Homo sapiens: one gene and its partner. The protein of the gene in region 1 interacts with the protein of each later gene in a pairwise test. Each region holds a gene or a part of one and is shown on either strand. Other genes may lie near its edges.

Region 1 (7,024 bases):
GCCCACTCTCCCACACTCTCTCAGGCTCCTCTAGGTTCTGCTGCCATCACAGCTTCCCGGGAAATGGGACACAACTGTCACCCTGTGCACACACACAAGATCTCACCCCAACAGACTCTCTTCACAGGCAACATTCCCACAACCTGCTGGGGGTACTTTGGCAACACAAATGGGAATGGGCTCCCCAGAAAGTCTGGCTGCCTGGGCTCCTAAGGATCCCTAACCTCACCCCTACCAAGTTAGTGAACTTGGCGGGTTGATGCTGGATACAGGTTGATGCTGGATACGTAGCGCTGCCGGGTCCCCGCCTCCACGGCAAGGGCGCATTCCCAGTATGTCCCTGTCGTACCAGGTAGACCTTGTCTCATCCACACACAAGCCCAGAGGACGAGTTCCGGGGGCGCCACTTGGCCAGGCTCCCCTGTGACACGTCTTCGCCCTCCTGCCCTGCCTCCTGGGACGACACTCCTCCGTTCTCCCTTTTTATTAATTATCTATCATACAGTAGGAAAAGTGACCGTCTTCCTTTGGTGTGAGTTCCCTGAGTCTTCACACAAGTAGATTCACACAGCCGTTGGCAGGATGCAGAAGAGGTCTGTCACCCTGCAAAACTCTCCGTGCTGTCCCTTCACTATCACACCGTCCCCACCATTAGCCCCGGCAAACACTGATCTGTTCTCTCACTGTACTTTTGTCTCTGCTGGAACTTTATGTAGATGGCATCGCGAGACAAGTAACCTGTTGAGACTGGCTTCCCGCCATCCACATAATGTCTCTAATGAGATTCATCCAAGTTGTTCCCTCCCTGTATCCACAGGTCGTTCCCTCTCAGATCTGAGTGGTATTCCATTGTATGGATGCCTACAGTTTATCTGACTGTCCGCTGAGGGTGGTTTGTGAAAACCAAACAAGGCCGCTATCCAAAATGCAAACAAGACTGCTACAAACACTGGTGTGTGGGTTTCTACAAGGCTGCGCGCTTTCACTTCTCTGGGGGTAAATCTTATACCCAGGAGTGGGGCAGCCAAGTCCCACGGGAAGTGCGCTTTTAACTGCATCAGAGATGGCCAAACCATTTTCTACAGTGCCCGTACCACCTGCCTTCCCGCCAGTAACACTGGAGTGTCCCAGTTCCTCTGCATCCTCCCAGGCACGTGGCCTCGTCAGTGTTGCTGAGTTTCACCATTCTGAAGCCATGTGTTTCGGGCCCTCATCCTGGTTGTAGTTTGTCTTCCCTAACCTGTAATGGCGTTGAGCATCTTTTCCTGTGCTTTTTCGCCATGTGTATATCCCCTTCGCAAATTGTCAACTCTTTTGCCAATTTTTAGGTGTTTCTTTTTGCAGTTTTGAGTTTTTAAGAGTTCTCTGTATGTTCTGGGTGCAAGTCAGTGTTTTGATGTGTGCTTTGCAAATATTTTCTCCCAGTCTGTGGCCTGTCTTCATTTCATTTTAATTTTGAGGAAGTCCAAATTTATGATTTCTCTCTCGTATGGACCATATTAACAGTGCCATTTCTAAGTACTCTCTGCCTAATTGCAAACCCCAAAGATTCTGTCCTATGTTATTTCCTAACAGATCTATAGTTTTACATTTTCTTTTAGATCTATGATTTGAGTTGGCATACGAATTTTACTTCTCCTGACCAGTTCTTGATTGTAGGTTTCTCTGCAGAGTCTATGCACAGCCTTTCTTCCCCGTTCCCCATTCTGTGATGAGATTCTCCTTTTTACTGAAGTTCCCTTCATGGGTGGAATGTTAGATCTCAATAGGCTTCCTTGTTTTCTCTTGCTCACTATGGGAAACATGTACTCAGACTGCTTCATCAACTGGGATCTACAGAGGATGAAGGGCAGAAAAAATCTTTCTTCTCATTTGTGGAAAGCTCTCAAAATTACTAATCTTTTTTTTCCCTGACAGTATCTTATACGAAAAAATTTGGTCTTGTTTAGATATGTTTCCTTCACGTCACAACAGAAACAGTTTTGAACCCAATGACCATTCTCCAGATACAGCACTGTGAAGTTGTAGGATGAGTGACTGAATATTTTTTATTATGAATGTTTTATCAAAGACTTTGGGCAGAAGTGATTATTCCCATCTTTAAATATGGAGTATACTTAGGTTCCCTTCATTTCTTCTCTGCTCCCAATTCTTTACTATACTTTTCACTTTTTAAGGGTAGCTATATTTAATACATAAAATATATTGTATGCAAAATTATACATCAAACAACAGAGAAAATAAAACCGAACAAAAACACTAGCATGACCTTACCTCCCAGTGGCAATGGAACTCTTCTGCCTTTAGTCTCCATCTTTTTTCCATGCATTTAATAGTGGAATCTATACTGTGTTCTCTAATTTCTACCTTGCCACTTATCTTTCTATCTCTGCATCCATCTACCCATTTATTCACAGTTAATTTCAACCAAATGCCCAGTAACTGAAGTCACAGTTTAGAAGCATGACATAGATGCCACCACCAGCAAGAGTGTAAATGGGTATGGCTTTTTTTTTTTTTCTTTTGAGACAGGGTCTTGCTACATTGCACAGGTTGGTCTCGAACTCCTGAGCTCAAGTGATCAGCTCACCTCGGCCTCCCAAAGTGCTGGGACTGTAAGTGTAAGCCACTGCGCCTGGCCAGGTATGGCTTTTGGAAAAGCAAGTTGGCAGTGCAGTATACGTATATAGGAATCTCAAATAGTTCCCAACCTCTAGCTCAGTAACACTATTTCTGGACTATTTCCTAAGAAAACAACCAAAAAACAAAAGGCAAAAATTTTAATGCATAAACATATATACTGCAGTATGATTTAAAATCATTCAACACTGGCAACAATGGAAATACCATATTTTAGAAATAAGAGGATGGTCTGATACATGCACTTGAAGAATATTTTGTATCAATTAAACTTTAGAAGTCATGTTTATAAAGACCTTTTATTAACATGATAAAATGTTTATGATACAACATTAAAACAAAAAAATCAGGATACAAAATGGTGCACACAGTTATATCCAAACTGTTTGTATAAAACACAGACATAAAAACACTAACCATGTTATCTCCCCATGGTGGGATTATGGGTGACTATTAGGCTATTACTTCTGCTTGTCCGTCTTTTCCAAGCTTTGTACAGTGAATATGAATTACTTTTATAATAAAAAAGAACTTTATTTAAGGATTTTAAAAGTTACATACAAGCCAGGGCCAGTGGATGATCTTGTCCAGTCTTAAGGCAATGAATATAAACTGGAGAATGTTGACAGAACACAGGATTTCTAACTAAAAATGAAGAGAAGAATCAGTTAAACAAAGTATAATTTGCATTTAATACTGCAGTAATTTGGTTAACACACTAAAAGACAATACACATTATAATACAGTGTAACTTGTATAATATTATATTGCACTGGAAACTCCTGATTTTCGGTACCAGAGGGGCACAGCAGTATTATGGCAAGGGGAAATGGGGCTCAGCCTGCTGCCTTGCCCCTCTGCTGCCTTGCCCTTTCTGGCCTGAGGCCTGAGCACAGATGAGAACCTTGTTTCCAGGTTCACTGGGAACACAGGCTAGCTGCAATAGACCACTAAACTTCCTTCATGTCCCTACCAACAATACTGTCTACTCGAAACCATCCTTGTGCATCCTTCTTCTCATACCTCGGTTTTGCCCTTGGACCCCACCCCTTCCTTTCAGGCTCCTTGAGGACCTTGTCACATCAAGCCATCAACTGTAGATTCCGTACTGTATCTTTAACCCCACCTATTCCATTGATCCCTCCTAGCAGCACAGAAATGACTCCTTCTCATTAAAAACAAAAGCCCCGAAACCAGATAAACCCACCCCATCCTTTGATCCAAGACCCCTCTTAGCCTCAGGTTTCTCTCTGCGAGACAGTAATGAATATGCAAGCCCCTACTATCTCATCTACCATTCCCAGCTTCCTTGTGATCTGGCCTCCACCCCCATGACCACCAGAAGACAGCTTTCATCAAAGTCACCGATAACCGGGAGGCAGCAAAAACACTTCAACTGGCATCCTACTGATACTGTGGATGACTCTTTCCTTTTTGCTCCCCTCCTCCTGGCCATCTAGATCCCACCATACAGTCTTGGAGCCCTCTGGAGTGTTCTGGTAATTCCTTCTGTCTCCTTTTCCCCCTCCTTAAATGGTGATGCTCCGCAGAGCCACAAACTCAGTCTTCTCTCCCGACTAGGAAGACAGACACACAAACACACATATTTTCACTCACCCGCTGCACCCTGGACTGGGGGAGAAGAAATTTCAACCAGACCCTTGGTCTGCATTATTACCTCCTTCATGGTTAGTTCTCACATCTGTCTCCAACTTAGCCTTCCTGCTGCATAGCAGACCCAGCTGTGCATAGGCCACTCGGCTCTCCTAAAGGCACCTCAAATGAAGCCAGTCCCAAATAGAGATCATTATCGCCTGCACTTAGAACCTTGTATCTCCTCTTTCTATAGCCTCCCATGTCACTTTCTATGGCCTCCCATGTCACTATGGCCTCCCATGTCACTTTCTATGGCCTCCCATGTCACTTTCTATGGCCTCCCATGTCACTTTCTATAGCCTCCCATGTCACTTTCTATAGCCTCCCATGTCACTTTCTATGGCCTCCCATGTCACTATGGCCTCCCATGTCACTTTCTATGGCCTCCCTTGTCACTTTCTATGGCCTCCCATGTCACTTTCTATGGCCTCCCATGTCACTTTCTATGGCCTCCCATGTCACTTTCTATAGCCTCCCATGTCACTTTCTATAGCCTCCCATGTCACTTGGAGGCACAACAGTGGTCTCATTTCTCAAGCCATGAGCCCGGGAATCACCCTGCATTCTTTTTCCCACACTGTCACGTTCAGTCACCACATCCTGTCCACTGTAAAGTCCAGATTTCTCCTGAATCCCGTGCCCACTTCCTATCCTGATGATGACTGCCTAGTGAGGCCTTCTTCGGCACCATCCGCCTACCACTTCAGCAACCCCTTACTAACCTCCCGCCTCCAGCCCAAACGCCCTGCAGGCTGCTCCTCACTCTGGTAAAGTACATTCTTGCCCACAAAATTGAAATCTGGGACCAGGCCCAGAGCTTCCCAAAAGTTCTCAGTACATAGGTACATGGGGAATTTAGTAATTCCTCCATAGACCTCTAGGCCAAAAGAAATCCCTAATGTGGCTGGGAATGCCAACAGTTGCACTGATTTAAGTAATTACATCTAACTTAGTAAGTATTTCTAAGTAGCCACTAGAAAAAATAATTCATATAAATCTAAAGAAAAATGTTAATATTATTCTTAAATAACCAAAACTAATTCCCAGTGGGATGCGTGTGCCTGTCAGGTAGCTCACCATTTCCCACGCCTTGGAATCAGACAAGGTGCTCCCACTCGTTACCTGTTCTTCACCCGGATTTTCACACAGCATTAGCCTTTTTTGTTTTCACAGCAACTGCTGAAAACCCAGCTTCTTAAAGATACGACGTCACTGAAAGGAATGCAGTGTGGCCTAAAAATAAACCTGTAAACTATTTCAAGCTAGTAGTTTGTATGGTGTCCCAACAAATGTCAGGTATTACTGTTTTCCTCAAAATGTCCACTATCCCCTGGTGCCCTGTGAGTGCACTGGGGTGCCTGGGGCACTTCAGCACATGCTCTGTGGGCTGAGGACGTGGCCCCTATTTGCCCCAATCCCTCTGTAGAGGCTCCCTCTCTTCTCAACTCCCACAGTTCCTTCCTTTCCACCTTGTGCTCCCGTCGGATCTGAATCGCCACAGTCCACTCAGCTGATGGAGTGTTTCCTGCCTCTAGGCTTCAATGTGTCCCAAAAATGCCATCCCTTCCCTCCCAACACAGGGCTTCCTGGCAGACCCTCAACTCCTCCTTCCCATCTCTGTATGAGCCTACTCCAGACCACCCCCTCACCAACATAGGTACTGTTCTTGCATCACAGGAGGAGGGAGCTCAGCTCCTGGTATGTTGTTTCTTCCAAGGGCAGGAATGCCTAGAGTGTGAATATATGAAAGACTTACTTTCTGTAATTCAGGCCCAATGCAGTCCTAGTCCTTGTATAGTTGTCCCTCAGTATCTGTGGGGGATTGGTTCCAGGACCCCCTGTGGATACCAAAATCCATGGATGCTCAAGTCCCTGATATAAACTGGGAATTGTAGGGAGGGTGAAAGTGGACCATCAGATACTCTCCCTCCACGGCTCACTCCTACCTACCACTATACCCATGCTGTGGCCTTTCCACCAGCATGAAAATCAGGGAATAGCTCCCCTTGTTCAAGGCCAAACCCTTCCTGGTGCTCTAGGTCCCATTCTCCCTGAGTCCCACAGGGCCTTGCTCCATCACCGTCCCTCTGTCTACATACCTTCCCCTCACGCCCATACCTGGGGTCTAGGCTTATATGCCTGACCCACCCTACAGCTGCTATGTTTACTTCCTAAGCCAACTGCAGTCTTCTCCCTTCACTCTTCATCCACACGGCTCAAAACCAGGCATCTACAGCCTCTAGTTCTCCCCTCAACCCATCAGTATTCAGCTTTGGGCCCTCAGCTTCTATGCAGTTATGTAGTTATGTGCCCGGGCTTTAGAGTCGGGCTGACTCAAACGGAATCCTGGTCCTGCCCCTTCACATGTGGCCATGAACAAATGACTTATCTTCTCTGGACCTACCTCACAGAGTTAGTTAGTAAGAAAACTACCACATGTAATGTGCCTCGCACAATGCCTGGCACACAGTAAGTGCTCAATAAACGTTATCTGCAATTACTTTCATTACTATTATTACTAGTCCTGGTATTTTATTCATCTGCATATCCTCTATGCTTAGGGAAAAAGGGCTTGGCATCTAGTAAATACTTGATAAATGTTTATTGAATGAATAAACAAACACAGGGGCACATCAGGATAAGCTAACCAGACAGCAGGGGAGGTGCTAAATCATGGGGTCTGAGGTGGGGAGATGGTCAGTTTTGAGTGTCAACTTGGCTGGGCTAT
Region 2 (7,714 bases), on another chromosome or scaffold:
TTATATAATTTATCTCATAATGATGGTGGCTTTCAAAGCTTTTACATGGGCCCCCATGTCCATGGACTTTGGGCAGATTATTCAGTCTTGTTTAACAATTCCACAAACAATAATGAGAATTAAAGTACTCAAATTTTAAAGAATTAGATAACAAATATGAAAAGATAATTTACAAAAGAAATAGAAGTGATTAGTAAGTATATGAAAATGGGAAGAATCACAAATATAGCCAAGTTAAAACAACTAGAAGCCATTTTATCCCTGAGATTAGCAAAAATGAAAAATTAAATAACCAGTGTTTGTATACTGGTTTTGATTGCAAATGATGGAAAACCTAGTACAAAGTGGCTTGAAAACAAATGAAATCTATTGGTTCAGGAGCCAAAAAGCCCATGGTGAATCTGGCTTAAAAAGTAACTGCACATTGTGCTCAACTGATAGCATCAGTGGACAATATGTCTCCTTCCACTTGCTCCAGTCTTGGTGTTACCATTACTCTCAAGCTCCACGTAGTAGCAAAATAGTACCAACAACTCAGGCCTGTGTATTGTCTTAAGTTTCAAGTCAAATTGGAAAAAAAAAACATAAGAGTCTTATTTCTAGATGTCTAAAGAAAAGCTTCATTGCAAGACGTTGGCTCTGATTGGGTCACCACAGCCAGGAGGATGTGTGCACTTTCTGGTTCAGCAGAAGAATCAGGGTCACCAGAACCACATGGACCAAAACTGAGAGGCAGTAGCTCTGCAGAAATAAATTAGGACACTGTTTCCAGAAAGATAAATATGTCAGGATGCAAAGCAACAGAAGCCTGTTAGAGTTGGCCTAAGTGGGGTAAATGAGCACTCTTATTAGCTGGTAGAAAAAGTCAACTATGGAGTAAACTTTCTGAAACCTAATTTCATGATACCACACCACAAAACCTTCAAAAATATTCACACCTTTGAATCTAGTATTTTTATTTCAAAAATTGTATTCTACAGAAATAACTGAATAAGAGCATAAGAATGTGCACACAAAAATACCATAAAAAGAGAAGAATAGCAAGCTCCAAAATATATTACTTATTTGCACCAAAAGATAGCTATAAGTGGAAAATGCAAGTCAAAGAGTGTCCACAGTTAATAACTCTTTTTTGTGAAATGTGCAAATAGGTATATGTAGAAAAATATCTGAAAGACTAAATAAAAGATGTTTAACGATGACTGTTTCTGAATTTGGGGACTACATGCAATATGTAGTTTCTAAATTTTTGCTTACTTACATCCCTGATTTTCCTAGCCATAATCATGATTTATTTTGCCAAAAAACAAAACAAAACAAAAAAATGAAAAACCCCCTGTAGTTGGCTGTGGTTCCCAGTGTCTCTGGCTTATGCTCCTTCTCACCTTTCAGTGGGTTTGCACATGGGTTTGTAAATTACGGTTTAGAAGAGAAATCAGGGTTGAGGGACAGACACAGGGGAGTTGTGATTTAGGGGGAATAAAAGTCTTTTTTCCTGGAAAAAAAAAGGTCTCTTTATGAATGTAAACCTTACCTATAGATGTTTATTGTAGCCATACATCTGAGGAAAATTAAATACTCATTGTTGTGTGGCCCTCTTAAGTCACCATAGACCCAGAATCATGCCTTGTGGGGACACAGAGAAAACTCCCTCTGTAATGATTAATGAAATGTCCAGAATCATTTTTATTCTCCAAAAATTAATGAAATTAATAGAGAAATGAGATCTAAATCTGGTGTTGAAAGCTATTCACCTAGAACTATCCAAATGCATGGTTTGCTAAGTTAAATTTAAACCAGTTACTTTCATTTTTGAAATGGTTCCCTAGCGGTCCAGAGTAAAACTATGTATGGTGTTCCTAACAGATACTTGGATTGGACCCAGACACTATAAAATGCCTAGCACTCTTTTGAATTTTCAGATAAAGTTTAATTTTTTACTGTTGATAATAAAAATAGAGGACTAATTTTTTTTTGTTTCAAGTTTTGCTTTGCAGAGTGTCATCTGCGAACAGAAGTTTTTGTTAACACAAGTCCCAAGACATTCCTACTTCTGAGCTCCTTCCTCTGGTCTGCAACATATGTCTACAGCAATATACCTGACAAGTGGTCCTTGTTGTGGAACATTAAATAGACACGTGTCCTGAATCATCAGGGACAATCTCCACCCCCGAAGCTGTATGTTCAATAGCTTTCTCCAGGGGTGGTGCCACTTGCTTGGCTACTCCTGTCTTAGCCTGAATTCCATGTTTTATAGATAATTCACTTACCACAGGAAACTGTAGCAAACAAGGAAATGAAATAAGTTGCTTGCTTGAATAAAATCATTCTAAAAAAGAAAACAATACATAACTCTGCTGGTTTTAGACCACATTTAACATAAATCTTAATTTAAGGTGATTTAGATTTTCTTGTAAATGTCTGAATTGCAAGACAAAGCACACAATTACTGGTATAGAAAACAAGGGTTTTTTTTTGGTACATTTGTGTCTAGGGAGTTGGAAAATTTATAATGCTTCCCAAGATACAAATTGAGACCTCCAGACTACTGTTGTGTTTATTGTTCATTGGCCAACTCTGTGGCTAGTAATGTTGGAAAGGGAATTGGTAGAGAGAGAGTAAACAATTATGAAACCTCTTGATTTGGGCAAAAACAAAATTAATAAATAATGGCAATAATGTCAGTCCAAAAATCCCTAAGTAAAGAAAACCTCTGAAAATATTAAAGCCCATTTAAAAATTTTAAATCAATCAAATATTCTTTCTGATTTAAAATCATCTTACATTTAAATATTTCTACATAAAGGAACATTATCTATACTCTCTACATACTCAGGAAATTAGAATATAAATGATTAATTTTCTCATAAAGTAAAAAATTATACTTAAAAATTATAGTTTATTTGGAAACAATCAGAATAATAAAAATTTGCTACCTGAAAACACAATTGCTTCTTGGAGGTGAGTCTCTTGTCACTTAAAAATGAACGGTCTTCAAGCTGTTCTAATGTGGCACTGCAGGCAATATTTTGCTTGGCTTCAATATTGACTTTGGGTTTCTGCCAACAGTTTCAACTTTTTGTCCTGTCAACATATTCCATGAACATCCTATCCGTGTTCAGCTGTTAAGTATATTAACTATTTCAGGGAGTGATGTCAGCAAGAATAGGAATAGGAGTTTGTCAGAACAGGAGTTTCTAGCGCTCATCCCTTGCAGAAACATCAATTCGAACAAGTATCCATGCACGAAAATAACTTCACTAGAGCTAAGGAATCAGGTGAGAGGTTATGCCACCTGGTTGCAGCACAGAAATAAGAAAAGACACATAGAAGTGTATAGGAAGGACAATTTCACATTACCGGTGTCATCTCACCTTCAAGCCTGGGCAGCACAGTATGGAGAGAGATGCCCTCTTGCATGGAGGAGGGACAGTTAAGATAGAACCTAACTTCACCACAGATCCCAAGCACCAAGCCCACTCCAGTAAACCCCAGCACCAGGATTCAGGCCTGCCACAGGCCAGACCAGCCTCTGTGGCCTCAGCCCCATGCTCACCCCAGACCAGGTCAGCCCCTGGGGCTTCAGGCTCCAAGATGGCCACACAAAACCTAGACTTCAGGCCTGCTCCAGCTCTAGCCTGGCCCCCAAGACTCTATCTAGCCTCCACGTTAGCCCCAGCAACCCCAGGCTCCAAGTTGGCACCCATGGGCCTAGAATCCAGGCCATCCCCTGCAGATCCAGCACCAGGTCAGCCTCCAGAGATCTTGGCTCCATGCTGGGCCATGTGGACCCAGATGCTGGGCTCACCCCAGTGGACCTTGTTCCCAGGACAGCCTGAATAAACTCAGGAACAGGCCTATCCCCATGAACTCAGGTGCCAGGTGATCCCCATGTTAGGCTGGCCCCTGCAGACGCAGGCTTAAGGCTCATTTCAGTGCCAAGTCAGCCCCCAAGGATCCATGCTTCAAGCCAGTCCTTGTGCACAGAATACAGACAACCACAGTGAATGAACCCAGAATCCAGCCCTTCCCACCTTAGAACTCCAGCAGAAATCCTGTGCATAGACCCCAACAGACAGCCCACCAACAATCTCTGGTCAATCTGACTAGTGAATGGCTTTCTCTGCTGAAGCTAGTATGTAAAGACTGAAATAGGTGCCTACTTCAGTGCAAGGCCACACTGATCACAAATAATCGGGGAAACAAGAAACCACCAAAGGAAGGAAATAAAGCAGCAGGAGGTGACCCTAAAGAAATGGAGATCTTTACTGCATGACAAGAGCTAAAAATAATTGCCTTAAGAAAGCTCAATAAGCTACAAAACAATATAGATAGACAGTAAACAAAATCAGGAAAACAATACATGAGCAAAATTAGAAGTTCAACAAAAAGATAGATAGGAACCATAAAAAAGAATGAAACAGAAATTCTGGAGCTAAAGAACAAAATGACTGAATTGAAAAAATTCACAAACAGCTTCAGCAGCAGACTAGATCAAGCAGGAGAAAGAATCAGCATGCTCAGATACAGGTCATTTGAAATTACCCAGTCAGAGTAATAAAAGGAATGATAAAAATTGCAGAAAGCTGACAAGACTTATAGGACACTGTTAAGAAAATTAATATGCATTAGAAGAGTTCCAGAAGAAGTAGAGAAAGAGAAAGTTGCAGAAACTTATTTAAAAAAATAAGAATAGAAAACTCTCAAAATTTGGAGACATAAATGAAATAAACATCCAGATTTATGAAGCCCAAAAGAACTCCAAATAGATTAAATATAAAGAGATCCTCGGCCAGGTGCAGTGGCTCATGCCTGTAATCCCAGCACTTTGGGAGGCCAAGATGGGTGGATCATGAGGTCAGGAGATCGAGACCATCCTGGCTAACACAGTGAAACCCCATCTCTACTAAAAATACAAAAAAAATTTAGCCAGGCGTGGTGGTGGGCACCTGTAGTCTCAGCTACTCCAGAGGCTGAGACAGGAAAATGGTGTGAACCCAGGAGACGGAGCTTGCAGTGAGCCGAGATTGCGCCACTGCACACTGCACTCCAGCCTGGACAACAGAGCTAGACTCCATCTAAAAAAAAAAAAAAAAAAAAGAAATCCTCACCATGACAAAGAGAGAATTTTCAAAGAAGCAAGAGAAAAGCAATTCTTCACATACAAGGGAAGCTTCATAAGATTATTGGTGGATTTCTCAGCAGAAATCATGTAGGCCAAGAGAGAGTGGGATGATATATTCAAAGTATTGAAAGTACAAAACCTGGCAACCAAGAATATAATATCAGGCAAAGCTGTCCTTCAGAAAGGAAGGAGACAAAAAGAATTTCCCAGATGTATTAGTCCAGTTTCACACTGCTGTAAAGATACTACCTGAGACTGGGTAATTTATAAACAAAAGAGGTTTAACTGACTCACAGTTACCCATGGCTGGGGAGGCCTCAGGAAACTTATAATCACGATGGAAGGCAGAGGGGAAGCAGACACCTTCTTCACAAGGTGATACGAGAGAGAGAGTGTGTATGTGCAGGGGAAACTGTCACTTTTAAATCCCTCACTATCATGAGATCACAGCACAGGGGAAACCACCTCCATGATCCAATCACCTCTCACCAGGCCCCTCCCATGTAATCCCATGTGGGGATTACAATTCAAGACGAGATTTGGATGAGGACACAGAGCCAAACCATATCATTCTTCCCCTGGCCTTTCCCAAATCTCATGTCCTTTTCAGATTTCAAAACCAATGATGTCTTTCCAACAGTCCCCCAAAGTCTTAACTCATTCCACAGTAACCCAAAAGTCCGAGTCCAAAGTCTCATTTGAGACAAGGCAAGTCCCTTCCCTCAATGAGCCTTTAAAATAAAAAACAAGTTAGTTACTTCCAAAACACAATGTGGGTACAGGAATTGGGTAAATGTTCCCATTCCAAATGGGAGAAATTGGCCAAAATAAAGGGGCCACAGGTCCCAAGCATATGCAAAACCTAGCAGGGAAGTCATTAAATTTTAAAGCTCCAAAATAATCTCCTTGGAGCCCCTGTCTCACACCCAGGGCATGCTGATGCAAGGTGTGGGCTGTTAAGGCCTTGGGCAGCTCTGTCCCTGTGGCTTTGCAGGGTACAGCCCCTACGGCTGCCTTCATGGGCCGGCACTGAGTGCCTGCAACTTTCCAGTCAGTGGATCTACCATTCTGGCATCTGGAAGATGGGGGAACTCTTTTCACAGCTCCACTGGGCAGTGCTCCAGTGGGGTCTCTGTGTGTGGGCTCCAACCCCACAGTTCACCTCTGCACTGCCCTAATAGAGGTTCTCCATGAGGGCTGGGTCCCTGCAGCAGGCTTCTGCCTGGACAGCCAGGTGTTTCCACACATCCTGTGAAATCTAGGCAGAGGCTCTCAAAGCTCAGCTCTTGTTTTCTGTGAACTCGCAGACCCAAGAGCACGTGGAAGCCACCAAGGCTTGGGGCTTGCACCCTTGAAGCGACAGCCTGAGCTATGGACCCTTTTAGTCACAGCTGGAGCTGGAGTGGCTGGGGCACAGGGCACCAAGTCCCAAGGCTGCACAGAGCAGCAGGGCCCATGAAACCATTTTTCCCTCCTAGGCCTCTGGGCTTGTAATGGGAGGGGCTGCCTTGAAGACCTCTGAAATGCCCTGGAGACATTTCCCCATTGTTTGGCAATTAACATTCAGCTCCTGATTACTTATGTAAATTTCTGCAGCCGGCTTGAATTCCTCCTCAGAAAATTGGTTTTTCTTTTCTACCACATGGTCAGGCTGCAAAATTTCCAAACTTTTATGCTTTGCTTCCCTTTTAAACATAAGTTCCAATTTCATACCATCTCTTTGTGAACGCATATGACTTGACTGTATGCTTTCAGAAAAAGCCAGGTTATATTTGAATGCTTTTCTGCTTAGAAATTTATTCTGACAGATACCCTAAATCATCTCTCTCAAGTTCAAAGCTCCACAGATCTCTAGGGCAGGGGCAAAATGCTGCCAGTCTCTGCTAAAGCATAGCAAGAATGGCCTTTGCTCCAGTTCCCAATAGTTTCTCGTCTCCATCTGAGACCATCTCAGCCTGGACTTCATTGTCAATACGACTATCAGCATTTTGGTCAAAACCATTCAACAAGTCTCTAGGAAGTTTCAAACTTTCCCACATCTTCCTATCTTCTAAGCCCTCCAAACTGTTCCAACCTCTGCCTGTTACCCAGTTTCAAAGTTGCCTTCACATTTTCAGGTTGTCTTTATAGCAGTACCTCACTCTGCCAGTACCAATTCTCTGTATTGTTTATTTTCACACTGCTAAAAGATATCACCTGAGACTGGGTAATTTATAAACAAAAGAGGTCTAAATGACTCACAGTTCCTCATGGCTGGGGAGGCCTCAGGAAACTTACAATTATGGTGGAAGGTGAAGGGGAAGCAGGTACCTTCTTCACAAGGCAGCAGGAGAGAGAGAGAGCATGTGCGCACGGGTAACCACCACTTTTAAACCATCAGATCTCATGAGAACACCCTCACTATCATGAGAACATAATGGGGGAAAACACCTCGTGATCCAATCATCTCCCAACAGGTCCCTCCTTTGACACCTGGGGATTGCAATTCGAGATGAGATTTGGGTGGAAGTTCAGGAACAAATCATATCACCAGACAAATAAAAGCTGTGGGATTTCAACACCATTAAACCTGCCTTACAAAAAATGCTA

The links. Proteins that work in one complex are often made in the same cells at the same time.
Region 2: the proteins of TMEM185A (region 1) and KLKB1 interact in binary tests that used the Homo sapiens proteins (3 or more experiments, as listed by UniProt).

The regions. Positions count from the first base shown.
Region 1 is NC_000023.11:149,600,786-149,607,809, forward strand, and holds part of TMEM185A (transmembrane protein 185A), read right to left. Parts: intron 3,286-7,024; coding exon 3,202-3,285; coding exon of another isoform or gene 3,187-3,201; exon of another isoform or gene 2,921-3,186; intron 1-2,920.
Region 2 is NC_000004.12:186,222,810-186,230,523, reverse strand, and holds the start of KLKB1 (plasma kallikrein isoform 1 preproprotein), read right to left. Parts: upstream 3,018-7,714; 5' UTR 2,937-3,017; intron 2,330-2,936; 5' UTR 2,329-2,329; coding exon 2,271-2,328; intron 1,654-2,270; exon of another isoform or gene 1,535-1,653; intron 1-1,534. UniProt on the Homo sapiens protein: Participates in the surface-dependent activation of blood coagulation. Activates, in a reciprocal reaction, coagulation factor XII/F12 after binding to negatively charged surfaces.